4 linked regions of the Homo sapiens genome follow. The protein of the gene in region 2 interacts with the protein of the main gene of each other region in a pairwise test. Each region holds a gene or a part of one and is shown on either strand. Other genes may lie near its edges. The genes, in order: ZIC1, KRTAP8-1, POU6F2 and FAAP20.

Region 1 (7,248 bases), on a different chromosome or scaffold from region 2:
TTCTTACATCTGCAGTGGAATTATAAATATCTTAACTCTATTGTAATCCCTAATACAATTGGATCTACATTTTATTTTTATGTTTAAAAAAATTAATAGTAGGAGGAGTCGGTTTTTAGCATCAGATCTGGAAACTCGTATTACCCAGAGCTACACACGATTTCGGATTGCTTCCACCTGGCTCCTGGTTTCTAGTTTTCACGTTTGCGGCTTATTCTCCTGCCCTATTGCTTTTCTCTCCTCCCCCTGCCCCCTCCCCGACGCTCCGCATCCCCTGGTCGCCTCCTCCAACCCACCCCACTCCCTACATACACTCACATTTTATAGCGTAATCTGGGCCGGAGAGAACTCAACGCCGCAAATTCTTCCCTGACTCGGGCGTTAAACCCGAAGTCTCAAGCATGGTTCTCAGATCTCACCCGGGAAAATCAGAATAGGAAAGGAGACCCAGTTCCCGGCCTCTTGGGGGCAGGGGGCCCAGAATGTTTTGTCTGATGCCAGGCTACAACCCTGAGCTCGTGGGAACTTTTTTTTTTTTTAACTGTTCCGGACCTGTGTCTTGATTATTTTTAAAGGCCAAAGAGGGGAATCTGGTGTTTTGAAAACACCCTCATGGAGTCTAATAGACAACAAGTTCTTCCTTGCCTTCCTCGGACTTTCTCCACCCCTCAAACCCACTCTTAAAACCAGTCACTACTAAAACTGAACTCTTCAAATATGCATAAAGCTCCAAAAGCCTCCTCAATCCCAAATTATTTCCTTTCCCCACTCTGTCTCAATTCTTTCTGTCTCTGTTTTGTTTCTTTCTACGCCCTTAACCCGGCCTCCTCAATTTCCTCAGCTCTTTCCTTTGGCAAAGTCCTCAGTGAAGTGCACGGAGAGAGATGTTGGCAGCAAGCAAGGGTTTAGATTTGTCTGCAGCCTGAGCAGCTGGCGCCTCCGCGGCTGCCGGGAGCCAGCCACTTTCTCCGGCTTCGAAAGCACCAAGGTCTCCGCCAAACCAGGTTTGGCTTCCTGTTCTCCGACCTTTTTTGTTTCTCATTTAAAAAATCTATATACCCAGCTCCTCCTCGTCCGCCCTGTGTGTGTGTGTGTGTTTTCCATAATTTCAAGCCAGAAACTAAAAATCAGCGCACACTTTCCCTGCCTGCCTGCCGGAACCTGACGCCCGGGATCCCACCGAGGCTGCGTTTGTGCGACCTGGCCGCTGACTTTCGGTTTGGGTCCCAGGCCCAAGTGGGAATGGGTAGGGGTCCTACAGCTGTTTCCGTACCTGTGTGCGTCCTTTTGTGGATCTTTAAATTCTCGGAGCGCGCGAAGACCTTGCCACAGCCAGGGAAGGGGCAGGGAAAGGGCTTCTCGCCCGTGTGCACGCGGATGTGGTTAACCAGTTTGTATTTGGCTTTGAAGGGCTTGCCCTCGCGCGGACACTCCTCCCAGAAGCAGATGTGATTACTCTGCTCCGGGCCACCTACGTGCTCCACGGTGACGTGCGTAACTAGCTCGTGCATGGTGCTGAAAGTTTTGTTGCACGACTTTTTGGGGTTGGCCAGCTGCTCGGGCTCGATCCACTTGCAGATGAGCTCTTGCTTGATGGGTTGGCGCATGTAGCGGAAGAAGGCGCCGGCGCCGTGATGCGCGGCCATGTTCACGTTCATGGGCCCGTAGCCGTGCAGCTGCGGCGCAGCATAGTGCTCCGAACGCGGGCTGGTCACCTGGCCGTACTGCTCCGGTCGCGGGTACATGTCCCCCGAGAAGCCGAGCCTCATCTGCCCGTTGACCACGTTAGGCGACGCGTGGCCGGCAGCCTGCTCGTGAAGCCCGGGGAAGAGGAGGTGGCCCGCGGCGTCCGTGTGGCCGTGTGGGCCCCCGAAGCCCCCGGCCGATGCAGCAAAGAGGCTGTGCTGTGCGCTGGCTGCCGCCGCCGCGTCGCCAAAACCCCGGTTGCGGAACAGAAAGTCCCGCGTGGAGTTGAAGGCTGCGCTGGAATAGGAGCCGACGTGGCCCGGGTGATGGTGATGGCCCAGGGCCGCAGCAGCCGCGTAGCCTGGCGCCTGCGACGTGAAGGCCGTCTGGCCGGCCGAAGCCAGCTCGTGCGAACTGGGGTTGAGCTTGAAGGCGCCCATGCCGTCGGCGAACGGGTTGATGCCCAGGCCCACGTCTCGTTCGGCCACGTCGCCCGCGGAGTGGTGGCGGGACGCGCCAAAGGTGGTCACGCCGATCGCTGGGTACTGGGGGCCGGCGTCCAGGAGCATCGTGGCTGCTCGGGGCGAGCCCCGGCCTCCCCCGCCCCCCCCACCCTCGCCAGCCGAGGAGGGAAAATCGGGAGGAGGAGGAGGAACAAGAGGAGGAGGAAGAGGAGGAAGAAGAGGAGGAGGGAGGGGGAGTCGACCCACCTCGCGAAGTCCTAGCCTGCAGGCAATGGCGCGGCGCGCCCGGGCGCTGGCCGGGCCAAACGCAAAGTAGCCGGACGGCTGCGGGCCGCGAGTAACGCAGGCTCCAGCGCCCGCCAGGCAGATTCTGCCGGCCCGGCTCGCACTTTCTCGCCGCTCAGTCTCTGCCGAGAGGGCCGCGCGTCAAGGCTGCCCGGGGAAAGGCATGGAGCATCTCAGCCCCCTAAAAAAAAACTTCCTCCTGGATTTGTAGCATAGAGGAATGTGAGCGCCAGTGCCGCGACTGCTTCGCCCTCTCTCCGCCTCGCGCAGCGCGCCCCTCCTTACTTCTCCACTAGCCCCTCGCCCTTTCTTTTCTCTCTCTCTCCTTTCTCTCACGCTCGCCTCCTCGCTCCTTCACTCTCCGTTTTTCCCTCTCTGCTTTTTGAAAAAAAAAAAAAAAAAAGTGGGTGGGGGGGTGAAGAAAGAAAGAAAAAGCCAAAGAAAAGGCGCAAATCATGCACAATATTGTCTTTTGCGGTTTATCTTCCTGGGGAGAAACTTTCACCTCCTCAGCCGGGCGGTGAGCGCGAGACTGATAGCAGCAATCATTCCTGCAGATAAATGAATTGAAAGGACGACACCGTCCCCCCCTTGATGAATGGGAGCAGGGGGGAGGTGTCACGTGCTGCCGACGCTGGCGCCCATTGGTGCGCCCGCATTCCCCCCGCCCTCAGCCGCCGCGCCAACGGAGGGCGCGCCGAGGCGCCGCGCGCAGCTCATTGGCCCGCCCGCCTCATCAATCCCAGGTATTGTAAAGCGCTTGACATCCCCTTTTGACAAACCAGGGCTGCCAGGAGTAGCAACTTTTTTTTTAGCCAAATTTTTTCCCTCTTCTCACGGAAATTTTTTTTCTTTTTTCTTTTCTTTCTTTCTTTTTTTTTTTTTTTTTTTTTTTTTGCCACGATTACTTTTCCTTCTCACAGTCATATGCATTCCTCTTCCTCCTTTGCCCTCCCGCACCCCGGCGCTGCCCTTCCCGAAACCAACTTTTCGCTGAGCGATTAGAGACTTCAGACGTCTCCGGGTGCAGCAGGCGGGGATGGGGCTAGTAAACACAGCAAAGGCACTTCCAGAATGTCCCGATTCAGCAACTTTCTTTTCTTTCTTCCCCCTTCCCCCCTCCCTTCAAGAGCAGCAAAAGAGGCTTTTGTTATTTGCTCCTTTTGAAGTTTGTTTCCCTCTTGCTTTGTCCCCCTCCTGTTTATAATTTAAGATCTTGGGAGCACACGGGCACTATGCTCTCTTTACAAAAAAATGTAATTTCTCAGTGTAACCGGCAGCCTCTGTATTTCTCGCTTTTATCTAATCAGACTTCCGGCACCACCGCACCCCCCTCCCCGAAAACACACACACACACACACTCACACACACAGGTGGATGAAAGCGCTTAAGTTCCCAGGTTATTGAGGTTTGAATTTTTTAATGGCAAATTTGAAACGTTGTTGCCAGTTTCCTTTACTTTTTCTCTCTCTTGCGTTATTTTTCTGTTTTCTGCCTTTCCGTTGTCTCCTTCGACTGCCCCCGCTAACCCTGTCTCTCCTCACTCCTGTTCCCTACTTGGGCCCCTTTCATTCAGGTAAAACTGTAAATTTCCCAACGCGCTATTGTTCCCTTGGGCTGCCCAAAGCTCCCTAGAGATCCCCGAATACTTTTTCGGTATTTAAATCCCCAATAGATAGGACCAATGTAAATTTTGTGACATTCAAACCTTTTCTAGTTCACAAATCAGTCACCCTTGTCACAGTTATTGAAATTCCGCAACTCGCCACACCAGGACGGTGGAAAAAGCGGGCGCGGTCTTTGTTGCCGACCAGGCTTTTGATCGCCAGAGAAAATTTACTTACCTTCAGATGAGTGAGCAGAAAAAGAAATAACACTCCCTTTGATTTAGTTAGGAAAATGCAGACATTTGGATTCAGTGCAAACATACAACACTCGCTTGTTTTCGCGATGCGGCCCTCGATTAACCTGTCTTTGCCTAGCGCAAAGTCTATTCAACAACTGCGCGTAGTTTCTTTTTGTCCCTTCCACAAAGAGCCATTGACTATATATTAAAATGATTGTTGAAAGGTAGGGGAGTATGGTACTTAAAAGCAGGAAAAAAAAATCCCTGTGACTCAATCAATTAAGCCGAGCAACATTTATGCATTTCAAAAAATGCACGCGGATGCGGGGGGTTGTGGGGACGAAGGTTGCATTTCTCCGCAGCTCTGTTTAAAACCCAGCAGTCCTGGCCGAGGCTTTAGCTGAAGCGTCTGCATATTCATTAGGTCTAATTATTTTCTAGTAAGGAAAACACAAAAAGCCAAGAGTCGGAATCCTTCAATTTACCCTTTGTTTCTAACTTCATTTGGCTTCTTTGCAGCTGAATCAAAGCCCTAAACTCTTTTTCCAAACAAAGAAACCTCAACTCATCCTTTCATAGGCGGCCCGGTTAGGAAACTCACCGTGCCCCAGCGAGAGGAAAATGAAAATGAATATATTTTTTGCCCTGACGCCAGCGCTGACTGCACGGGCTGGAGGAAGGCAGGGTCAGCGTCCGCCGCTCCTCGCCTTTCTGGTTTTCTGGTCTTCTCACCAACTAGATTCTCGCTTGGGGCTGGCCGGCGGGACTGCCCTTTCCATGGGCTGTGCTTGCTCAAAAGTCGGCTTGGGTATCCGGGATGATTTCCCGGTGCCTGAAGGGACCTGGCTGAGCATTTGTGCTTGTGCCGGGAAATATAAATTCGGAAAAAAAATTAATTGTTCTGTTCCCATCAACAAGTCTGAGTCTAGCAGCCCAGCATTTCCCACCAACTTTGAGTGGAATGGAATGAGGAGTGGAGGTAAAGAAAGGGCCGAGGTATCTTTAAAAATTATTGTACACTTGGTTGGAAAAAAAAAAGATATATCGGAGGCACTAAGTCTTTTTACCTACAAGGGGAAGTTGGATCCTGCTTCCCCTGGAGTTTAGAAAACCTCATCTGTATGGAGAAGTTTTCTCTAGAGGCTGTATTCCTCTCACTAGGGAGAACAGATATTGAACCCACCTCGCCCGCCTTTCAGGAAACACACGCGGGCGCACACACACACACACAACAAGGGAGGGGACCTAAGGGGGGAAGGGTAGCTGTTGGGAGGGGGAGAGGGAAAATAATTCTTCAAAAAAGAAAAGTCAGTCTTCTCCTCTCCAGTCCGTGGAAAATCCAACGGGGACGTTGACAAGAGGGTATTTTTAGGAAACACATCCAAATATACAGGGTAAGAGTGAATGTGAGAAAAAAAAAAGTTGTGGGTTGTAGAAGTTATCAAGTGGGATTTGCGGCGCTCTCTGCAGGAAACGCGAACGGCTCCAGTTCAAAGCCACATGCACCAACGTGACATATAAGCCATTAAAATATCATCCTGACGGCTCATTTCTGCTTCATCATACATTCCCTAACTGCTTCCTGAAAGCTGGAAAAGGAGAAGTGAAGGATGACCGCCTCGCTGGAACCACAAAAGAGAGGCTTGGAGGGGTTTGTGGTCCCCTCTCAGCCACCCCGAAATGATGTGCAGAAATGAGGCGATCCTGGCAACAGGTGGAGTGGGGTAAGTGCGTGAGTCCAGGGGGCAGACAGATGAGAACTGTACCTCCAGCGACCGGGTAGCAAGTACCCTCAAGGGGACCACTGGCACCCAAACCCCAGTGGGGGAAGAGGCCCAGCCAGTCTTTCTGCCCCATCTCCTCCTTCATCCTACCCCCCTCCCCCAACCGTGGATAAAGGCCCCACCCCACTGACACTAAGGGGAGGAGGGGGCCCTTCCGCAAAGGGGCAACGCAGAGGATGAGTCCATCCCTTCTTCCCAGGAGGAGGGAAAAGGGGTACAAATGGGGCTCCCACTGGCACAGGAACCAGGAGCAGTTTGTTGCCTGCCTGCCTTCCCTTCTCTCCTTGTGAATTGCCTGGGTGCCCCACCGTGGGCACAAGAATGGAAGTCGTGGCCCAGAGCTTCCCTCGCGAAAAATGAGCAAGGCGGGTGCCGGGAGGGGGCCTTTACAGGAGGTATCTCTGCTCTGCCCCCAAGGGGGTGGCTAGGAGAGTCTCTGCTTCCCCTCTCCAGGGTCAAAGCGCCAAGTTAGCCCAGATGGCAGCAAGACGATGGAACTTCTCCGCCCCAACCTGACGGCAGATGCCGCCTGAGTCCACCTCAGGGCGGCTCCTTGCCCTCCCTCACCCTGGTCCTGCCTCAGGAAGCTGACTGCTGGGATCTGCTCTCTGCGCGCGGCCAGCAGTGGGTTCGGGACTTGGCTTTCTTTATCTCCAATGCGAACAAGAGCAGCAACTAGCTCTCTGGGGAGCAGGCCGCAGCTCCTAGGATTCTGGCCCCTAGCCTAGACCCAGGGGCATTGGAAATTAGGGGCCAATGAGGAGGGAATAGAGCTGAGCTGTGAAAGAAAGCTAGGACTGGCTCAAAGGTTGGATCTGAAAGTTGGGGTTGATGAATGGCCCATGTCAAAGTCTTAGGAAAGCGGAGGGGCTTTTGGAGGGTTGCACTTCGGCCGTCACCGTCTTCAGGAAACTCCCTTTGGATTCCAAGGTCATGTTTTCCCCGCTTTCCGACAGTATTGTCCTCGCAGCGACCCACACCACTGCATGCTGCTCTTTTTTCTCCTGTCTCAGCCGCCTGCAGGTTGGGGGAGGGGTGATTCAAAGGGAGGGCTAAATGCCCAGCCTGATCTACTGATACAAACTCTATTCTGGGCACCCGGATGCTGCCCACACTTACTTCAGCCCCGAGCTGGGAAACCCAAGCTTCTCCCTCTAGAGAACAGGAGAATGAGTAAAGGCCC
Region 2 (5,629 bases):
ATAGGGGATTTATCCCTTCACCTTAAAAACTCTCAGATTTCCAAAGGATGTCTGTGGCTTCTCTATTACTCAATGCTCCAGCATCCTTCATTAGGGGGCATGGCACTTTAGTCTATAATCCTTAGTCCCTGGGAAAGGGAACACAGTGGATTTCATTTGGACTAACATGGAAGTGACTGAAAAAGTTCCTCCTGTGTTGGGTTTTCTTGCGGAGGAGCAGAAGTAGTGAGATGAGAAGGGGACCCCGAGCAATAAATGGTGCTCCATTGGGTTGGAGGTGGGCATCATAAAATTTAAAGAAGGTTCAAACAGGCAACCTTTTAAGTCATTACCTGCAACCCACCCTCTTACCTGCTTATCACACAGGATCAGTAATTCTTTGCTTTCTGGCTGTTCCTAATGCCCACATGAGAAAAATAAATTCACTTCCCCCCCACCACCCATGTAACAGAAAATATGCACACACCAAGAAAGGAAACTTCGCTCTAGCATGAGAATATTATACCAGCTGAGACAAATTTATTGAGATTTTGATAGACATATCCATGACTTCATCACAAGTCATGAGTGTCATGGAAAATTCAAAAGTAGCTCATGACAAGTGGGAGGTCAAATTTCCGAAAATGTCCCAGAGAACATCAGCCAGGGGAGGCAGCTTGAGGAAGCGTCTGCTTTTTCATTTTCCTCCCCTGGGACTCGAGGTAAGTTGGAAAGCAGTGTCTCTGAGGTTGATGAGCAAATGAGGACTGAAGGAGTGGATACGGGGGGAACCTGGAGATGTGGGGCTCAGCCTTCAAGGGAGAGAAGATGCTACACCTCGGGGATTTCAGCCAATCAGTAGAGAGCAAATGGCGAGTATCTCCTGTAGCCGAAAGCCCCACAGCCGTTGTAGCCATAGCCGAAGCCATAGCCCACTGGAGAGTAGGTGCTGCCATAGCCACAGCCAACGCTATATCCCAGCGGGTAGCCATAGCTGCCCCAGTAGCATCCTGGGAAGACAGCCCCGGGGAAGTTGTCGCAGAGCATGGTGTCGGGAGTGGAGGGCTTAGGTAGCAACAGAGTGCGTTTCCTCAGTGGGATGGATTCCTAGTCTCAGAACCTTCTTTATATATCCCAGCTCTGGTGGGTGGTGAAAAACACAAAGCCCTCATTTTCATTCTTGACACCAATTTACATTCTAAAAAGCTCATTAACTTGTTTTGCTCTTGCTTATGATGTCTTTACAGTGGCTTAAGAAAGCTCTCGTGTGATGCAATACAGGGAGAAGATGCCTTTAAACAAATTATTTCCCTTCCTAAAAAAAAAAAAATTATTGCCAGGACTTCAAAGCACTCTGTCTTATAGACCCCATATAACTCTGTAAGCAGGTATATAATATCAAGAAATATTCTGAGGTTGTTAGCTGTTATGCAGTCCTCTTGCTCTCTGAATTTCCACAACACACAGTTGAAATTCAATAAATATGTGTTAAATACATTAATATATAAAATAACAAATGGATAGTGAGTCTATCTCAAAATTCTCAAAATTAAAGTATGTCTTAGTATTCACCTGCTTCAAGGATTCTCTTTTTTGGAATATGAAAGACAAGTGCAATGGAACTCATGAGAAAGAGTCTTTTTTTTTTCCTCTACTACAGCTACCGTGTTTGGGAAACTGGTTAAAAGTGTAATCTTAATCATAGTCCCCTCCTAAACTATACCTAACATCACATTTCTAGAAGACTACTTGAATTAATAGTATTGAGATTTTAAAACGGAGTATTTGGATTAATCCTTGTACTGAATTGTCAAACAAATTTAATTTTTTGGCCTGAAACATATTTCAAACTAAACATTGAAACTAATAAGGTAAACACAGAAAAATGAATTAAAAAATTTATTGTAAGATTTAAAATTTTTTTTCTCTTAGATCTAATGAAACTAGATTGTCTGACAAATGTGATGATATTATAAAGGGCCAGATGACAACATGAAATCAGTTATTTCACTTTTACAATGATCATGCACCCCAGGATAAAGAAGGAATGTTATTCCTTTCTAAACAGAGAGTCAGTTCTCAAGCATGAGTTAAAGGAGGGATAAGGCTGATCAAAACTATCTTGGATCATGTAAGACCTGATATATTATTCTCAGACACCTGCATTAAGATTTCTTACAGTGGCACTTAGTAGAGAACTTACAGAACAAATACCAAAGAGGGCATATGGAACAGAAATAGGCACAGAGATAATAGGAATCATTCTAGAAGGCCACAAAACAGATATGTATTACACATGAGCTCTCCCAGATTTTACTTCATAACCCAGAGGTAACTTTGCTCCCTGCTATCAGCAGCTAGGAATCAAAGGCTGAATCCAAGAACAAGATGAGACACTTGGAAAATTCAAAACCATGCCAGTGTTCTAGCCAGCAGTAGACTAATTACAGCAGAGGCATTTTTTTTAAATATAGATATATATATAATTTTTTTTTGAGGCAGAGTCTTGCTTTATTGCCCAGGCTGGAGTGCAGTGGTGCAATCTGGACTCACTGCAACCTCCACCTCCTTGGTTCAAGCGAGTCTCCTGCCTCAGCCTCCCGAGTAGCTGGGATTACAGGTGCATGCCACTGCGCCAGGCTAATTTTTGTATTTTTAGTAGAGACAGGGTTTCAGCATGTTGGCCAGGCTGGTCTCGAACTCCTGACCTCAAGTGATCTGCACATCTCGGCCTCCCAAAGAGCTGGGATTACAGGCGTGGGCCACCGCGCCTGGCCTAAATTTTTTTATTTTTAGTTTTTGTGAGTGCATGGTAGGTTTATATATTTATAGAGTACATAAGATGTTTTGATACAGATATGCAATGCGTAATAATCACATTCTGGAGAATGAAAACACCTACAGTACCCTGCTTCGTGAGCAAACCTGGATGGCTGCCTATGGGGATTCAGTAATTAAAATTCAAACACGATATGTGGCTTATAGCTAAACAAGTTCAGGGAATTGAAATTAGATTTATTCCCAAAACATAAAGGTATTCAACCACAGATCATTCCCTAAAAATCATAGAATGATTTACATACTATTTCTACTGGCATCACATTGCTGTGTTTCATGATAGAAAAGCTGGTAATGTTAGGGAAAAAAGAAAAATTAGACAAAAAATAGCATTGTATAATGGATAATTTAAAATTTTTGAATTAATATTGCCAAAGGTCAATTATGTTGCTCTATTTAAAAGAATTCTCCCATTCGCCTACCCAATCTGACAAGATGCTAGCTTTGCCTTCTGCAGCACAAAACCTAGCTCTGAACATGAATAGTAATTAAAATATGTTGTCTTTTTTAAAACTTAAGCCCTATTTACAGAGAATGGCTTGGATTTTCTCTAGAAAGTCTACAGAAAATTCTAACAGAAGAAAATTTTAGGGAAACATATCATTTATCAACAAGTCATTTAAAAATTAATAGCGAAGTTAATCCTATATTGAGCCTATGAAAGCTTTATTCTGATAATAGGCTTATCAAAGAAAGAGCAAGGTTTTCATAAAGCCTGAAAGTATACAATGCTGAAAGCCCTTTTTCTTAAAAAGTATACAATGTAATAAATATAAAATTAAGTACAAAAGTATTTGTTGAGATGCTCAAAAAATCACAAAAAAATTAAACTCCTAAATATATAAAGCAAATATTAATAGACCTGAAAAAAGAAATAGATAGAAATATAATTATAGTACAGAGCTTCAATACCCCATTTTCAACAATGAATGGGTAATCCAAAAAGAAAACCAATAATGACACATTGTACTTGAACTTAGACCAAATGGACCTAACAGACGTGTACAGATAGTCCATCCAACAGCAACAGAATACACATTCTTCTCAAGCACACACAGAACATTCTCCAGTGTATATCACACGTTAGGCCACAAAATAAGTCTTAACAAATGTAAGAAGAATGAAATCATATCAAGCATCTTTTTCAACTATAATTGTATGAAACTAGAAATCAATAACAGGAGGAAAACTGGAAAATTCACAAATATGAGGAACTTAAACATTTCCTGAACAGCCAGTGGGTCAAATGAGGAATGAAAAATATCTCCACACACACACACACACACACACACACACACACACACACACACACACAAAACAGAAAAAAAAAACCAAAATTTTGGAATGCAGCAAAAATTCTAAGACAGAAGTTTATAGCAATAAACTCTACATTAAGAAAAATTAGAATTTCAACTAAACAACATAATTTTATATTTGAAGGAACTAGAAGAAAAAGAACAAACTAAGTCCAAAGTTACCAAGAAAAAAGGAATAAAGATCAAAGCAGAAATAACTGAAATATAATCTGAAAAACAGAAAAGAGCAACAAAACTAAGAGTTGGTTTTTTAAAAGATAAACAAAATTGACAAACCTTTAGCTAGACTAATAAAACAAGGGAAAAGACAAATAAAATCAGAAATAAAAGAAGAGATATTATAACATACTCCAAAAATATAAAAGATCATAAGAGACTACTGTGAACAATTATATGCCAAAATAATTCAATAACCTCCAATAAATGGACAAATTCCTAGAAACGTGCCACCTACCAAGAATACATCATGAATAGGAAATCTTAACAGACCAATAACAAATAATGAGATTGAATCAGTAATAAAATATCTTCCAACAAAGAAAAATCCAGAGCCAGATTGCTTCACCATTGAATTCTATAAAACATTTAAGAAGAGCTAATACTAATCTTTCTCAAAGTCCTTCAAGCAATTAAAGAGGAAGAAACACTTTCAAACTCATTTTATGAGGCCAGCATTACTCTAATACCAGTCAGACAAGGACACTATGAGAAAATAAAATGATAGGACAATATCCCTAATGACCATAGATGCAAAAATACTAGCAAACCAAATTTAAAAGCACATTAAAAAGATCATACACATGATCAAGTAGATTTACCTCTGATAAGCAAGAGTGGTTCAGCATACAAAAATTAATCAGTGTAATATACTTTACACATGAATAGGATGAAGGATAAAAATTATTTGTTCATCTCAATCGATGCAGAGAAAGAATTTGACAAAATTCAACAATCCTTCATGATAAAAATTCTCAACAAATTAGGTATAGAAGGCATGTACCTCAACATAACAAATGAATAAATCAGTAACAGTCTTAGAAATAAAACAAGAAAAAAAAGTGTTTCAATTGCTCCTATTGTTTTTAGGATAATATTTTTTAATCTTTAAACTGACCTAAAAGTTCTCAACTCTCTCTTCGTTAAGTTTTGCTGTCTTTTAGTTCTTCAAACTTCGCATGCTCCTCTCACTCTTAAGCTTTGACACATGCCGTTTGTTCTGTGAGGAATTCTCTTCCTTCCTCTCCTTCTGATCAACTCCCATGCAACCTTCACATGCCAGCTCAATCACTTCCTTTGGGAGGCCTTTCTGCCATTCCTGATTAGCTGGAGCCCATCTGTAGCATAACAGTAGGCCAACCTCTTCCTCGTATCTGTAGGACTTAATCGTAGTTCCTATATAACCTTCACTTGTGTGATGGGTATCTGTCTGCCTCATTAACATGCTTATTTCCAGGAGAGCAAGATAGTATTTTTAATCAGCCTTGATTCCTCACTGC
Region 3 (7,025 bases), on a different chromosome or scaffold from region 2:
CTGTTTCTGGCCATGATCCAGCTCAGGACACAGCGCTGGCTTCACAGAGTAGAAATTGCTCATATATGCCTTTCCCCTAGGATTTCTCCTCCCCCAAGCAAGCAATTAAGCAGTCTAGTACTTGGAAGAACAAACTCCCTGCCTAGTATATCAAGATGAAGAAACTTGGTTCATTCACACAATTTTTGGAAATCAAATCAGATTTCTGATAGCAATTACCTGTAGTTAGCTTCCTAACCCCTTGAAGGTAGGATGGATTGTTATTCATGGGATGATTTTCAATTCAATTCAATTACACAGTTAATCAGTTTCTGATCGTTGGTTTGATTATCATTTAGAAATGAAGACTTGCATTTCCATCTCTTATGGCCATGTTTAGTGCTTCGTTTCTTTTTTTTGCAGACCTGAGCTTGTGAGTGACAGATTAGTTCATCAGTACTGCGGACCTCCTGTTTTTGTTTTTTCTCATCTCATACAGTCGGGTCACTGTGTCCAATACTCCTTCTGGCACTGCTGTCCCCAGAGGACTTAGGCAGCCCACCATCCTGATGCACAGGCCTGAGGGTCCCTGTTGGCTTCACGTCTATAGACTGACTTTTGCAAATATTGCAGAACAGAGGATATTAAATTAGTTGTTAATAAAAACAACAGATGAACCAAATTAGATGAAAATATTTATCAAGTATATCTAAGAGTTTGCTGGGAGTGAGAGAGAGACAGCTGGATAAAGTGATCATGGATGCACTTCCAGTTGACATTGCTAAAGTACTAGTAGAAGAGAGAAGAGACCACACATTCTATATTTTAATAGCATTAGAAGTGCAGTAAAAAGCTGTTTACAATTTCCCTTACTGGTACAATGGGTCTTTTATTTTTCAAAGTACATTTCGACCATGTGAAGTGTTGTAAAGTTGTACATCAGAAAACTAATGCAAATGTCTCAGACAGTGCTCAGTATGTGTGCATGCATTTGGCTTAACAGTATCTCCATGTATGTTTTCTTATATGGAGATTTTAAAACACACAAATATTTCACCGTTATAGCATCAAAACAATTAATTTTACATAGAGGTTTGTTTATACCATCCCTTGTTCCAAAAAGTATTTAATGTAGATTTAATAATAATTTGCTTACCTAAAATATGCTCAAATTGATGTGTGATGCAAGTGGTCTAGGGAGAGGGGACACTGGCTCTCATAACACATTTGAAGATTGCCCTCTGTCAATTTAGACTGATATTCGTGCCTTACATATAAAAATGAAACACTGGGGCTAACCTAACCCTGTTTTACTCATGTGAAGCATAATTCCCATATACTCTTAAAAAAAGTCATTTTTGTGGGTGTGAATGCCTGTATTTTTGAAACTGACAGATTGCTTCAACAAATTTATGTATTTTGGGAGTGTGAAATTATTACTGCTTTAATTTTATTGAGAATACTTTTTCCCCAAGGTATTATGGATGGATGGTATACTAGAAAAAATACAGATTAATTAAGGATTATTCTTTCTTATACATACTGGTGCTAGTATTCTTTTGGTAAGTTCCAGACTGACCAAAATTGAATTTGTACTATGTATTGTTTATTGACCTAAAAAACTTCACTTAATATTTCATTCATACTTATAGGAAAGTCTTATGTTAACATTTTACATTTCACCAGATGGACTTAATTTTTATTATGTTTAGAATTTTTAAAAATTAAAGCAGACATTTAAATGGTAAAGTCAATTTTGTCCATTTAAGTAAAATTTAACAATATAGTAATACTACTATCCAATAATGTTAATACTAAACAACAATTAGATGAACTTGGGTCTTGAAACTAAATTTTCTTTTCTATCTCTAAGGTCAATTAATGAAACTCTCTGTACCATTCAATTATCATTTTCAATGCTTAAGAACTTAAAACTTTTTTATTCTTACCTCTAACATATGCAGAGAGGTGGCTGCAACTTTTAGAATACAAATGCTTACAAAAGAAAGTTTGCATGTAATAAGTTTCCTGCGTGTAAAATCTATAATATTTGTTTCAGAGGTCAGTGAAGGATGTTTCTTCACTGACCTTTTCTTTGCTATGTAAACTGCATATTACCAGTTTCAAGTATTTTTCTCTTTATTGCTTACAAAAATTGGAATATAATTAACATGTCTGCAAATACTGAAAAACTTCACTTTTCAATTGCATTGTGATATTGTACAAGCTGTTACTCTTTTCTAATGCTTGATTGAGTAGAAAATAAAGTTGGGACATAAAGTGCAAACATGAAAGGATCAGACTTGAAGAAACAATGTGCAAAAAGATAAATATTGACTTTAATTTGAACGCTAAAAGAAAATCCAAATTACACAACTTCTAAATTAATTTGTAATTTATGGCCAAATCTTTACTTGGGAGATAATAGCTGCTCTATATATAATCTCAAACCTGGATTTATGTTCTTTTTCCCTTCCCTCCCTCCCTACATCCCTTTCTTCCTTTCTGCTTTTGTTCCTGCCTCCCTCCTTTCTTTTTTTTTTTTTGTAGGTGAAATGTGTATCCAATAAAGTAAATTACCAACTCAAGTTTGCTCTGTTAGCCTATGTAAATTGCTCTGTTGAGCCATATTGTCTTAAACTGATCCAAAATTGTAATCAAGATTTGTACCAGTTTTGCTTTTTACACATTTCTTCTGCATCTCAATTTGAAGAAGCGGTTGCGAGTGAAACACTATCACTACATTTCAGTAAAGATTTATTTTTCTTTTTATTATTTTCTTGTTCTTCCCAGTTCCACAATGTGAGCCAATTGTGGTGAATATTGCTTAATTTTTACTGGAAAAATTCCTTCCTGGTTTTCTGTATGCTTGTGTTATTTTTCCACACCCCACTTATAAATGATCATATTATTGTTATTTCAGGGATAGCACTTCTCATAAACGTAAAACCATTGTATGTAAGTAATAGCAAAATAATTGAAAACATCTTTGATTATTTACATTAAAGGAAATTCTCTAGGTTTTAAAACACTTGTTTTTCAGGTTGGCTGGTCTTCAGAAAATAGCTTTTTGTTTTATCAGTAGCTTTAAAACCCCCATGGTATGAAAGATTCTTTCTTCAAAAGACAGACATTAGCTGTTGATACTTGGCACTGATTCTAGGTGAAATGCAACCCTATTCCTTTCAACAGCACTTTTTTAATTATAAGACAAAAAAAATTGAAGATCAACTGAGTATTCTCACTTTCACCTATTTTCAGCCTTCCCCCGACCCAGGAGGTACATTTTTCCCATGGGAAAAAGTACCCACATAATTTCCAGCACTTCCCTAGTCCTAGGGTCAAAGATGCAAATAAACGTGTTGACACCTTTAATGAAAAGGATATAGTCGCTCAAAAGTATTGCTCTGACATTTTGTTCTCCTTCTTCACTGCCATTTCTCCATCAGCTTTTCTTCTCTTTTCCACTGTGAACCAGAGTCAGTTTGATGAGTAATAAGTGAAAAGCGAAATCTTTGTGGGCTTCCCAGGCAGGAAAGGGCACTGGAAAGAGAGACAAGACCTCGAGCAAAACAAAGCAAAAAGGCAGCAGAAAACTCACCAATATACTTGCTTCTTTAGTTTATATTTCTAAGTTATTTTGTAAGCTTACCTCATCTCACCTAGCAATTCAAATCACACACAAAAAATACAGTGAAATAATACGTTAGCACAGGAAAACTAGAATTAAAAAACAAAGTCTAAGAAAAGGCCTCACAGTGCTTGTGCTGTACACAAATTTCAATATTAAGGAAAACTTTTCTTTAAATCTTTAGAGTTTTTACAAGAGGTTAGCCAGTGCTCCGATGCTGTGAAATAGTACTTATTATTTCTGGAGTTTAATATGATGTTGACCCTGCATATTTTATGACTTTGATTTTTGATGAATAATTTAAAACTATTTTTAGAAGAAAATATTTATCTCTAACATCTAAAAACTTAGAGAAACAGGTATATTTTTAAAAGAATACATACCTGTTAAATGGTGTTTTTAGCATTGATCAGAACTCAGGCAAATTCCTGTTCAAAAGAACAAAGCACAACATTTATAGGGAGCTTAGTTTTCAGTGCAGAATTCATATACAGATTTTTTTAAAGGAAGTAGGTTTTTGTTGAGAGTAAAAGGTAAATATTGTACCAAGACAGAAGCAAGGATACCAGAAGCCGTAATTGATACTGAGGAAATATGAGAAAAGTAGATATTTCTTAATTCTTCAGTTCTTTTCCTCCAAATTGGAAGGGCAGAATGGGCAAGAATGGAGCTGGACACACAATAGTAGGGACTATGGCACGCCAAACTTGCTTCAGACACAGCTAGTTAATTTTGTAAGTCTTAAATAATACTAGAAAACAAGCCTCTTTCAACCTTTTCTCCAAAAGGTTGAGAGTTAGGACAAATGTAAAATGCTGCTTAATGGGCACAAATAAAACAAGAACATCAAACTCATTTCACTTAGTGTCAGTCCTGATGATTCATCATTATGGTCAGGGCGAACTCTGGTCTTTGGGCCGAAACAATTTTATCCATTAAAAAAAAATCCAGAATGTTCCAGCTTGAATCTTATATCCTTAGGGTTACAATATTGAATTCCGAATCGGGAAACTTAATCTTGCAGCCAGATTTGACAAGATGCTGGTTGAATGGTGGGCAGAAGTGATGATTGTGGGATGAAATGCCCTAGGTCAGAATTTGAGAAAAATAAGAGATTTTGTGAAAGTTTGGCTGTGATATAAGAATGCCAAGTTTGAAAATTTCTCTCTGTTCATATCAGCAGATGGTGTTCCAGGGTCTTAAAAGTAAATCTCTGCTGTATTCATTTTCTCTGTTTCAATATTTCTTGAACAAAGTGAGTCTTTACACATTCTTAGGTGCATTTCTTGGTGTATTTCTAGAACTGCTAATACAAGAGGTGTTTGTAGTAATATTCAGAAGGTTTCTGGGAACGAAGGCTAATATGGCTCAAATCCCAAACAGTCCTACATTGTTCCTAGGTAATATATTAATCCTCAATTCAAGAACTAAAGTTGTGATTTCTTTTCTGAAAACTTTTTTCATTTGTAAACAAACCTATATCTAGATTCCTAGTGACGAAAGAATTTAGAGTAAAAATGAAAATGAGGCAGTCTAGCAATCTAATTCATTAACACACACGCACACTCACAGACATACTTTAAACATTTTGGGAATACTTGACTATTTAACCTCTAATAATCTAAAAATATTTTGTCTCTGTTTTCAATCTTAGTACCTGAAAAAATTATGACAGATGTTTACTTAAAATACTCCTCTCAACTTGGTTGAGAATGGAAAAATACTTTGCAACTTTTTTGTTTTTGTTTTGAGATGAGGTCTTGCCATGTTGCTGAGGCTGGCTGTGAACTCCTGGGCTCAAGAGACGCTCCCACCTCAGCCTCCTGAGTAGTACTTTGCAGCTGTTAAACATCAAGTTTGTGGTAAGAATTCGAGTACATAGTCGATTGGAAAACTGCAAACGTATGAATATTGTGGTTATTTCCTTCCAAAAACAGGGGGGCTCTTTGGTTTGCAATGTACTGCCATTTGTACTAGTGCTGAAACCTATCAACTGCAATTGCTTTCTCCCTTTCTACCTTTATTTATCAAATAGAATTTAAACAGCTAGTTCAGGCAGAGAGTGGAACATCTGAGTAAAAGTGACAGTACATGAACGCAATTCTTATATGCACGTGATTGAAGTGAGTTAATTACATGGTAGACTCCTATGAGTATTTTTGAATTTTTTACTAAAAAATTATAACAGTAATTTCTGCATATGGCAAACCATTGCAATAGCACAGAATAATATAAAGTGGAAAGTAAAGTATCCTGATTCCACTCGCCACAAATAACCACTGTTAACTATTTCTTATATATCCTTCCAGAGATTTTCTGTGCATGTATATGCAATCCTTACACAACCCAAGTAGAACTATACTATACATAGAGTTCTGCAACTTACTTTTACATATAAAAAATATTTTGAACCTCTTCTCATGTGACTATGAATAGATCTGCATCCTTCTCTGTAGTACTCCCTTTTATGGATATACAGTGATTTATTTAACCAGTTCTCTCTTGATCTAGCTTTTAAAAATAAGTTAGTCTCTGCAATCAGTCTAACAAGTAGAGAAGTTTCATTTCTCTTAACATAAAAGATTTCAGAATTTTCCAAATAGGATTTGTTTGAGCAGAAGAACTCATAAATAGTGTCTCCTGAGAGAAGGTTAAGTGTAATGTTAAAAGTGAAGAGTAGCTTTATGCCACAAGAAAAGATACTTATCATCTATATATTGAATACTCAAACCAATTAAAATAGCAATAAAGATCACAATATTTTATTTAGTAACAAAGAGGTAAGAATGACAGAGAATGGCGTAAAGAGCTGGTTCTCAGTCAGACACACTGTGACTTGAAAACCTTTATGTTTGCTCCAAGCCACCAAACTCAACTGAACAAAATGCTTGTTATTTTCTTTCATGAGCCTCAATGCTGTTTATTAAGATAATTGACATAGATGTATGTTTCCAATGCATGATTCAGTTAGTGTATCTAGATTAGTGAAAAAGAGACCAGAAGAAATTCATGGTAATTAATGTCAGTTAAATTTCTGTTTTCTGTATTTCATATTGTCAGACCAATCCTTCAACCCTGATTCATAAGTTAAATAATGCAGTCACAAGCAGGGCTAAATAAAAACATGTAATGAGACTTAGCTCTTGAATTCTACTAATTTAGGGTTCTGAGAAGGTAGACAAAGTGTACATTATTGAAATATTCCAGAGAATGTAAAAAGTTATGTTTTACGTTTCTTTTAGGATATGTCTCTGCTCGTTCTCTTTAATTACGTCACCTCACATATACTAAGAAGACAGTAACGTAGGTGGTAATGAAATCTTATATTTGAATAAAAGATGGGAGTGTGAGCTGACCATGCCATCTTTCCCTACACAGACTTCCAGAATTGAGCCTATGGAACTGTCCATTGGGT
Region 4 (7,984 bases), on a different chromosome or scaffold from region 2:
AAATCCCAGTGACCAACCCAGGGCCTCGCCACATCAACAGAGACAAAACGCAGCTCTGGCTCTCAACATCCTCACCCCTCACCAGGTGCCCAGCTTCCCATCCACCCACGTGACCCGCAGGTGTCTGAAAATGCACAAAATGTCCAAATAGGACCACAAGAAGATCTTAAAGACACAAAGAACATTCTACATAGTTTGTCAAATCCAGCATTTGACGGTCCTCTGGGTGACCCGGAGAACACCAAGGCTGTGAGAAATGGGAGGCCTCCTGGCAGCTCCACTCCCCAGACCCGCCTCTGCCAGGGCTCCAGGCTCAGCAGGCGCCTGTGCGGGACAGGGCGACGGTTCAAGACCAAGTCCGGCTGTTAGACCAGACCCTCCAATCCAGGCGGCCTCCCTGCTGGGGTCCTGTGCGGTCAGGAGTCCCAGGGCATCCCAGGGTGGCTGTGCAAACCCTTGTTCCCAAAGATATGGGGCTTGTCCCCCAGCTAGCCTGCCCATGCGGTGGCCACAGCCTCGGGTGAGTTCCGGTTCCAAAGTACCGGCTCTCCCTTACGATCAAGTGTTCGAATGTGCTTGAAGCATTCCAGACACACCAAGGCCTGGACCTGACTTCATTGACGCCTACTTAGGAAAAATTGAGGCAGTCTGCCAAGCTTTCAGCAACTGCTTAAAAAGCTCAAAATGGCAAGTTTTTCCTCGTGAACGTCCTTGTCTTCAGAAGTCTTTTTTTAGACTATCTGGAAAAGCAGGCGATGCAAAGACAAAAGCCCCTCCCCGGGGGGCGGGGGGCAGCACCCTGACAGCAACAAGGATCTCAGAGCTTCAGCCAAGAGCATGGATTTCTCCCCAGGGCTCCCAACAGTACCCTCTGTCCGTGATTCAGGGTCTTACTCTGTCACCCAGGCTGGAGTGCAGTGGTGCAATCATACTTCACTACAGCCTCCAATTCCTGGCTCAAGGGAATCCTCCCACTTCAGCCTCCAGAGTAGCTAGGACCACAGGCACGCGCCACCACGCCCAGGCATGTAAAGATGGGATCTTGCCATGTTGCCCAGGCTGGTCTCAAACTCCTGGGCTCCAGCAACCCACCTGCCTCAGCCTCTCAAAGGGCTGGGATTACAGGCGTGAGCCACCGTGCCCGGCCTTTTCTTTTGTTGTTGTTGTTGTTGGCTGCCAACTTTGGACTCCGGTGCCTTCGCATTCCCGAGCTGTTTTTGCTTCTGGAAGACCAGGGGCATCAGGCATGACTGAAGGACCTGGTCTCCATAAGCTCTGAAACCTGCCGCCCATTAACTCAACCAAAAGTTACGAACCAGCATCATTCACACCACCCCAGCCCCAGGACCTGCTCCGGAGGCCAAGGGCCCAGAGGTCGCCAGACACAAGGCCAGGCACTGGGCAGTTTGGGTTATCTTGTTAGCAAAACTGGGTTCCATTCCCCTTTACTTAAAAAATACATAAAAATATACGTTGGGTTTCAAAAATAAGAAAAAGCATCTCCAGACAAAAAAGACGATCTTCATTTTTAAAACCCATGACGCACTCTCGGGAAGGTGTTCCTGTGCTCTGGGCCTGGGGACGCTGGTGCCACCAGATTCCAGGATGGCCAGGTGGACCCGGGGCCAGTGCTCCCAGCCTTCCTTCTGTGCTGTTCTGTGGGCCCCCAGCCTGCCCTGCCCACAGAGCACGGCAAGCAGGTGGACCCCAGACCCGTGACAGAGAGCCACCTGGACATGCCAGGCCACAGCACTGGGCCACCTTTCCAGTGTGAAACAGGGCTTTAAAAGCCAGCGCTGAGCTCGGCCACCTCTTGACCTTCTGAACGGCTGTGGTTTCCAAACACGGATGGATAACCGGGCCGGGCGCAGGGGTGGCCTACTCACCTGGGGGCGAACTCCTTCTGGCACATGGGGCAGCTGCGCAGGGCCGCGGCACCCTCCACAGACGGCTGCTGCTCCACCCTGGGGGCCCTGCAGGGATCAGGTGCCGGGCGCTGGGGCAGGGACCTGGCGGGGGATTCCAGGTGCCCTCCTGCCCCGTGAAGCAGCCGGTAGGAACGGCCCGGGCCCCACAGGTCCGGCGGAAAGGGTGTCCAGGAAAAGGTCTTGGGTCCGACAGTGAAGACTTCAGTGGGCTCCGGGCCGCACCTGGGCTCCTGCAACACAGAGTTGTTGGGCCTTGCCCAGCGATGGCTCCCGCCCTGGAAACCCCTTCATCGCTAAGATGGGCCCAGTGGGCACACCTGTCCTGGGAAGGCGGGCAGTGAAGGCACCTCGTGATCCAGGATCAGCTCCGGGCTCACCGTGCGCAGTAGCTCGGCCCAGAGCCGCTCCCGCTCATCACCCCCCAGGAGAAACCAGGGGCGGCCGCCAGAAGGCCTGGGGCAGACAGAGAGGGCAGACAGGGGGTACTCAGTAGCGGAAACGCTATGGTGGGGAGACCCGGGAGGGCCTGGGGCAGAGAGAGCGGGGAGATGGGGGGTACTAGAGGGAAATTCGATGGTGCGGGAGGTGGCCGGCAGGGTTGGGGGAAGGGCTGCTGGGGCAGACAGTGCGGAGATGAGGGGTACTGGGGGTGGGGGAGCGGGGTGGGTGGGTGGAAATATGGGGTCCTCAGCGGGATGAGGCGATGGTTGGGGAGATTGCGGAGGGCCTGGGGAAGGTAGAGGGTTAGATGGGGGGTGCTCAGGGGAGACGCGATGATGGGAGAGGCGCGGGAGGGCCTGGGGCGGCGCGGGGGAAGCTCGGCGTGGGGTGGGGGCTCAAGGCGGGCGCTGAATGGCGGCGCGGGGTGGGGCGACGGGCGTGGGGGCCGGGCCCGGGGGCAGGGAGCCCTCCCCAGGGGGAGAATAGAGCGGGAGGCCCGCGGGGGCGCCGGGAAGCACGTGGGAGCGGGAAAACCGGCCGCGCCCCCGCCCGGCTCCCGGCCTCACCCGCCCGCCGGGCGCGGCCTCCGGCGGCTCAACCCCAGCCGCGGCCTCCGCGCCGCCTCCATCCAAGCCCGCGCCGGGCGGAAGTGAGCGCAAGCCCCGCCCCCGCCCCTCCAGGCCCCGCCCCCGCCCCGGCCCCGCCTCCAGACCTCTGCAGCGAGGCCGCCCCCCTCCGAGACAGTCGGAACCCCAGGGGCCCTGATCCCAGCCTGTAGGGAAACTGAGGCCAGGGTTCCTTCGTCCTGCACCGCACAGGGGGGCCTGGCGTGAGGGTGGGGGGCCCAGGTGGGGGAGCCCCGCCCGTGTCCCCTTTCCCGTCCGGGCAGCCCCCGGGCCGGAGCCCCCTCCGTTACCCCGATGGCTGCCCGGCCCGCCCCGGCACTGCCTCCTCCCGGCTGCACCCAACAGCTCCCGCCCCCGTTTCCGGCTCTGCGGAGCCGCCTCTCCTCCCAGGACCATTCCAGGAGTAAATAAAGCTTGAAATCCGCCGTCGCCACCACCGTTTCTTTACAAAAGGCGGGGAACTCAAGCTCCTTAACCAAGAAACCAGAGGCGAAGTGACAAAGTCCAGGTGGCTCACTTGGGCCTCAGGGGCCTGGGCCAGGGCCCTGGGGGCAGCTGAGGGGCTTTCCTGCCTGGACCCCGGGCTCTGCGACCTCAAAGTCGGCCACGTGGTGGCAGCAGCCGCCCAGGCACCCTGGTGCCACACTTGGCTGTGCCCAGTGCCCCATGGGCCCAGGCCACTTGCCTCTCCCTTGGCCCTGCTGGGCCCTGGAGTGGCTGCCACCCTCACGGAAGGAGTGGGGTCTACAGAGATCAGGGTCAGGGGCCCTCGCCAGACGCCACTCAGGGCTCTGGGACTCCTTGGCAGTTTCTGCCCTGCCCAGCCCCAGCAGCTTTGGGGCTATGCTGGGCACCCCTCCTGCAGGGCTCCCTGGCTGTTCCTACCCCTCACCTGGCCCCTCCCAGCCCCCAGTCGTCTGTGCCCTCCCTCCAGAACTCAGCTGTGGAGCCCGGCCCTGAACCCAGGCCACCCGAGTGGCCCACCGTCCTTCAAGGGGCCCCAGCCTGGAGGCCATAGGTTGGTGTTCAGGGAAAGGGTCAGCAGCAGGGCCTGGACTGGGAGGTCCCCCTCTCCCTGCATGAGTGGTTTTCTTCCGCACACCTTCCTGCTCTAGATGCTGGAGGCCCCCAGCAGAACAAGATGGAGGCACCAACCCCCAGGCCCTTCGACTTGAGTGAGCAGATGGAGATGCAGCGCTGAGTGCTGCCCGGGCAGGGGGAGGGGGCCTGGGGGAGCTGCTGCAGGCCGTGTGGTCTCAGGGGGCCCTGTGGGAGGTAGCCTGTGGCTGGGCCTGCTCTCAGGCGAGAGAAGCCCAGCCGTGGGGTCTCTGCAGCCCCACGTCCACCACATGGCAGGTGCCAGCTGACCAAGCGCTCTCAGACAGCCAGTGTCCAGGGCTCCCCGACAGTCCTGGCTGCCCTGGCTTCAGCTCCGAGCTTCTGGGTCTTTCCTGGAAATGTCACCATGGTCTGCAGGAGGGCCTTGGGTACTTCCAGGAAGACTGGTCCCAGCCTCCCAAGACAGGAGAAAAGGCCAGGCCCAGCAGCCCATGCCTGCAATTCTAGGACTTGGGGAGGTCCAGGCAGGCAGATTGCTTGAGCCCAGGAGTTTGAGACCAGCCTGGGCAACATGGCAAGACCTTGTCTCTATAAATAAAAAATTAGCTGGGCATGGTGGCATGTGCCTGTGGTCCCACCTACTTGGGTGGCTAAGGTGGGAGGATCACCTGAGCCCAGGTAGGTGGGGGCTGCAGTGAGGCAAGATCGTGCCACTGCACTCCAGACCCCAACTCAAAAAAAAAAAAAAATAGGCCAGGTGTGGTGGCTCAAGCCTGCAATCCCAGCACTTTGGGAGGCCAAGTCGGGAGGATCACTTGAGGCCAGGAGTTTGAGACCAGCCTGGCCAACATGCAGAAACCCCATCTCTACTAAAAATACAAAAATTAGCCGGGCATGGTGGTGCACACCTTTAATCCCAACTACTTGGGTGGCTGAGGCACGAAAACCACCTGAGCCTAGGAGGCATAGGTTGTGGTGAGCCAAGATCGCACCACTGCACAACAGCTTGGGCATCACAGCAAGACTCTGTCTCGAAAAACAAAAAAAGACAGAGGAGAAAAGCCCTTGGTGACAAGTGTTTGCTCAGCTCTCTGTGCCGTGCTGGGGGTGGTGGGGGGTGTTCTTGCTCCTTCCTCTCCCTTCCCCACTCTGGCTCCCAACCCCAGGGTTCTGCTGTTGGACCCGGGGGTGGCTCCTGCCTCCTCCTCCTCTATGGCCCCCACATGGTCCAGTGCCCTCCTGCCATGGGACCGGCCGGCCTCTGGATGGGCTCCGAGCCCCCTGGGACCCATCTCCTTCCCTGCCTGGGTCCCTTGGGCAGAGCCTGGGAAACTCAGGCCCCTGCCCTGTCCTGGAGGACCATGTGAGGGACACCTGTGTGTGGCTGCTGCCCCAGAACAGGGGCCTTTCTGGGCGGGAGGACCCAGCCCCCACCCCTGGAAAGCCAAACACTAGAGCTTTGCTGGGGTCTTCAGCATCCTTCCAGCCCCTCCCGGCTCCCCCATGCAGGTGCCCTGGCCACTGGGCCCAAGAGGGGCAGAGCCGAGCAGAAGCAGGGCGGGGTCTCAAGTGACCCAGACCCGGGACACCTGCGCTGCCCGGCTGGCGCAGGCTGCTTGGGAAGCTCTCGCTGCGGGTGCCCCAAGGGTAGGAGGCACGGGCCTGCAGGGGACCTCAGGGCTGGCTGAGCCTGGCTCCAGCCCGCATCACTGAAGCTGGGGGGCCCCCATCCCCTTGAGTCTTAGCCACCCCAGTGGGCCTCATTTACCCTTGGCCACCAGGGAAGAGGAGCCAGGGCCCCAGGCCAGTGCCATGGGGCAGAAGGCAGGGCCTCTGGGCCTGGTGCTTTGGGGACGCAGAGGCAGCACAACGTGTCACAGTTGTCCTCCTGGGGGCTCTTCCCCTCCAGTTTATCTGCTGCTCTGGATTAATCTCCCCTCCTCCCATGTCACCACTGGGGAGGGGGCAGTGGGGCAGGCCCCTGTGACCTACAGCCAGAGATAAGTCCACAGAGAAAGGCACTGGGGTGACCTCTGCTCTGGGCACGTGGCGGGTGCCTCCACTTGTCAGGAAGCCTGACCCCCAATCCCCTCCCGCCTGACAGCTTCCCGACAGCTGCCTGCCAGCCGAGGGCCTGGAAGGGGACCGGCCACTCAAGACTCTCAAGACAAGGAAGCATGTTCACCTCCAACAAACATACCTTGTCCTGCCTGTCCTCAAGTTATCAGCATGACACAGCGGTGCTGGTGATGGTGATGGTGGAGGTTTCAAAGTTGAACCTGATGAAAACGCTCCACTTCTTCGGAGCCATCTGCTGCTGTGGTGACGGAGTTTTGCTTTATTGGAAAATAATTTCTGGTTGGGACTGACACGTGCACAGTGGAAATGAGTTTTTTCTAAGCCAAAATTCATGTTTACAAAAGAACGTTTCAGCTGTGGGAGTTTGCATCCCAGGCAGAGCAGAAGGTGATCGAGTGGGTGGGGGCATCAGAGCCACCCATCTCCTACTCCCGCACCTGCAGACCGGTGGGCTAGGAGGCCCCTTACCCTCTGTGGCAAAAAAGGACACATTTATGGATGATGAATCAGGCCCCAGCCCACTGAGCTGGTTTCAGAAGCCAGGCTGGCCGTAGGTCAGGGAGCCAGGCCTCTCCAACTCCTTCCACCGCGGAAGAACAAGTGTCCCAGCCACTGGCATCCTCAGAGTCACCCAAATGTTCATCTCTGCCCAGCGCTGACACCCTGCAAATCAGGCTAAGACAGCGGTGACGGGCCCTGAGGCTGGCAGGCCTAAGCAGCCCGGTGGCCGTGCACCCTCCCAATTTCCAAATGAGACCTGTGGCCGACAGGCACCCTGGGCACATGCTGAAGGCACTGGGCTGCCTCCACCCCTTCCCATGTGGCTAAATGGCCCAGCACCCACACACGGTGCCCTGGCAGTGCTCACCTGCTGGCAAGGACAGCCAAAAGGCCCGGGCAGCCTTCTGACGCAGCCAGGAACTGGGCTGTGCTCCACCACACCTGCTGGCCCGTGGATGCCAGGCAGGCACGCCCACCCATAGCCAGATGTGGTGGCATTTATGGGATACGGGAGTGCCAGGCAGACAGGCTGTGAGAGACAGTTGCCTGGGAAACATCGCCAGATCTTTGGGGCAGCAGAGCAGGTGCTCGGGCCCACACATGGGGTGCAAGAGTAGGGGTGTGCCTTGGTGCCCTTGGGCACCGACAGCCTCCTCACAGCCTCAGTGGCGGGGTCATGGCACAGGCCTGCCCCTGACCCCAAGAACCAGAAAGCCAGGAGCAGCTGGGGAGGGCCCTGGCCCGGGAGAGACAGCGGTCCTGTTTCTGAACCCCATCCCAGCCATGGCCTGTGTCTGGGCCAGCATCCCCGACCAGACAGGGCCAGCCGCCCTCTCTCAAAGTCCCCAGCACCCCTTCAAGCAGTATCCGGTTCACACCCTCCCACAGCCTGTCCTCCATCCCCACGTGTCGGGCTCAGCTTCCGCACCACTCAGCCCCCACCCAGGGGCGGGCTTTTATCAGCCCCAGATCCTGCTCTGACGTCCCCCCGCCCGGAGAAGCTTCCCCAGCCCAGCCCAGCCCAGCCCAGCCCAGGCTTCTCTCTCCACCCCACTGCCCTGCTGGGAAATTGTGAGCTCAGATGCTGATTGGTCTACCCAGGAGGGCGGTCCTGTGTGCTCTGTTCCCTGGGAAGCCTCTCAGAGTGCGCGGCACCAAGGAGCCGGTCAGGGAGTGGAGACCTCTCAGGGCACCCCTCCTCTGGGGAAGGCAAGTCACAGAAACCAAGCTGGAGGAGCACTGTGGGTTGAGCAGCGTCTCCGAAGACTCATGTCCACCAGTACCTGAGAAAGTGGCCTCGCTCGGAAGCAAGGTCTGTGCCGATATAATCAAACCAGGATGAGGCGATAC

What was found.
Region 1: the proteins of KRTAP8-1 (region 2) and ZIC1 interact in binary tests that used the Homo sapiens proteins (3 or more experiments, as listed by UniProt).
Region 3: the proteins of KRTAP8-1 (region 2) and POU6F2 interact in binary tests that used the Homo sapiens proteins (3 or more experiments, as listed by UniProt).
Region 4: the proteins of KRTAP8-1 (region 2) and FAAP20 interact in binary tests that used the Homo sapiens proteins (3 or more experiments, as listed by UniProt).

The regions. Positions count from the first base shown.
Region 1 is NC_000003.12:147,405,120-147,412,367, reverse strand, and holds the start of ZIC1 (zinc finger protein ZIC 1), read right to left. Parts: upstream 3,004-7,248; 5' UTR 2,256-3,003; coding exon 1,274-2,255; intron 1-1,273. UniProt on the Homo sapiens protein: Acts as a transcriptional activator. Involved in neurogenesis. Plays important roles in the early stage of organogenesis of the CNS, as well as during dorsal spinal cord development and maturation of the cerebellum.
Region 2 is NC_000021.9:30,812,195-30,817,823, forward strand, and holds KRTAP8-1 (keratin-associated protein 8-1), read right to left. Parts: upstream 1,081-5,629; 5' UTR 1,027-1,080; coding exon 835-1,026; 3' UTR 503-834; downstream 1-502. UniProt on the Homo sapiens protein: In the hair cortex, hair keratin intermediate filaments are embedded in an interfilamentous matrix, consisting of hair keratin-associated proteins (KRTAP), which are essential for the formation of a rigid and resistant hair shaft through their extensive disulfide bond cross-linking with abundant cysteine residues of hair keratins.
Region 3 is NC_000007.14:38,980,884-38,987,908, forward strand, and holds part of POU6F2 (POU domain, class 6, transcription factor 2), read left to right. Parts: exon of another isoform or gene 1-623; intron 624-3,366; exon of another isoform or gene 3,367-3,522; intron 3,523-3,993; exon of another isoform or gene 3,994-4,038; intron 4,039-7,025. UniProt on the Homo sapiens protein: Probable transcription factor likely to be involved in early steps in the differentiation of amacrine and ganglion cells. Recognizes and binds to the DNA sequence 5'-ATGCAAAT-3'. Isoform 1 does not bind DNA.
Region 4 is NC_000001.11:2,191,753-2,199,736, forward strand, and holds the start of FAAP20 (Fanconi anemia core complex-associated protein 20), read right to left. Parts: upstream 3,021-7,984; 5' UTR 2,998-3,020; coding exon 2,936-2,997; intron 2,382-2,935; coding exon 2,246-2,381; intron 2,159-2,245; coding exon 1,887-2,158; intron 1,224-1,886; coding exon of another isoform or gene 1,106-1,223; exon of another isoform or gene 1-1,105. UniProt on the Homo sapiens protein: Component of the Fanconi anemia (FA) complex required to recruit the FA complex to DNA interstrand cross-links (ICLs) and promote ICLs repair.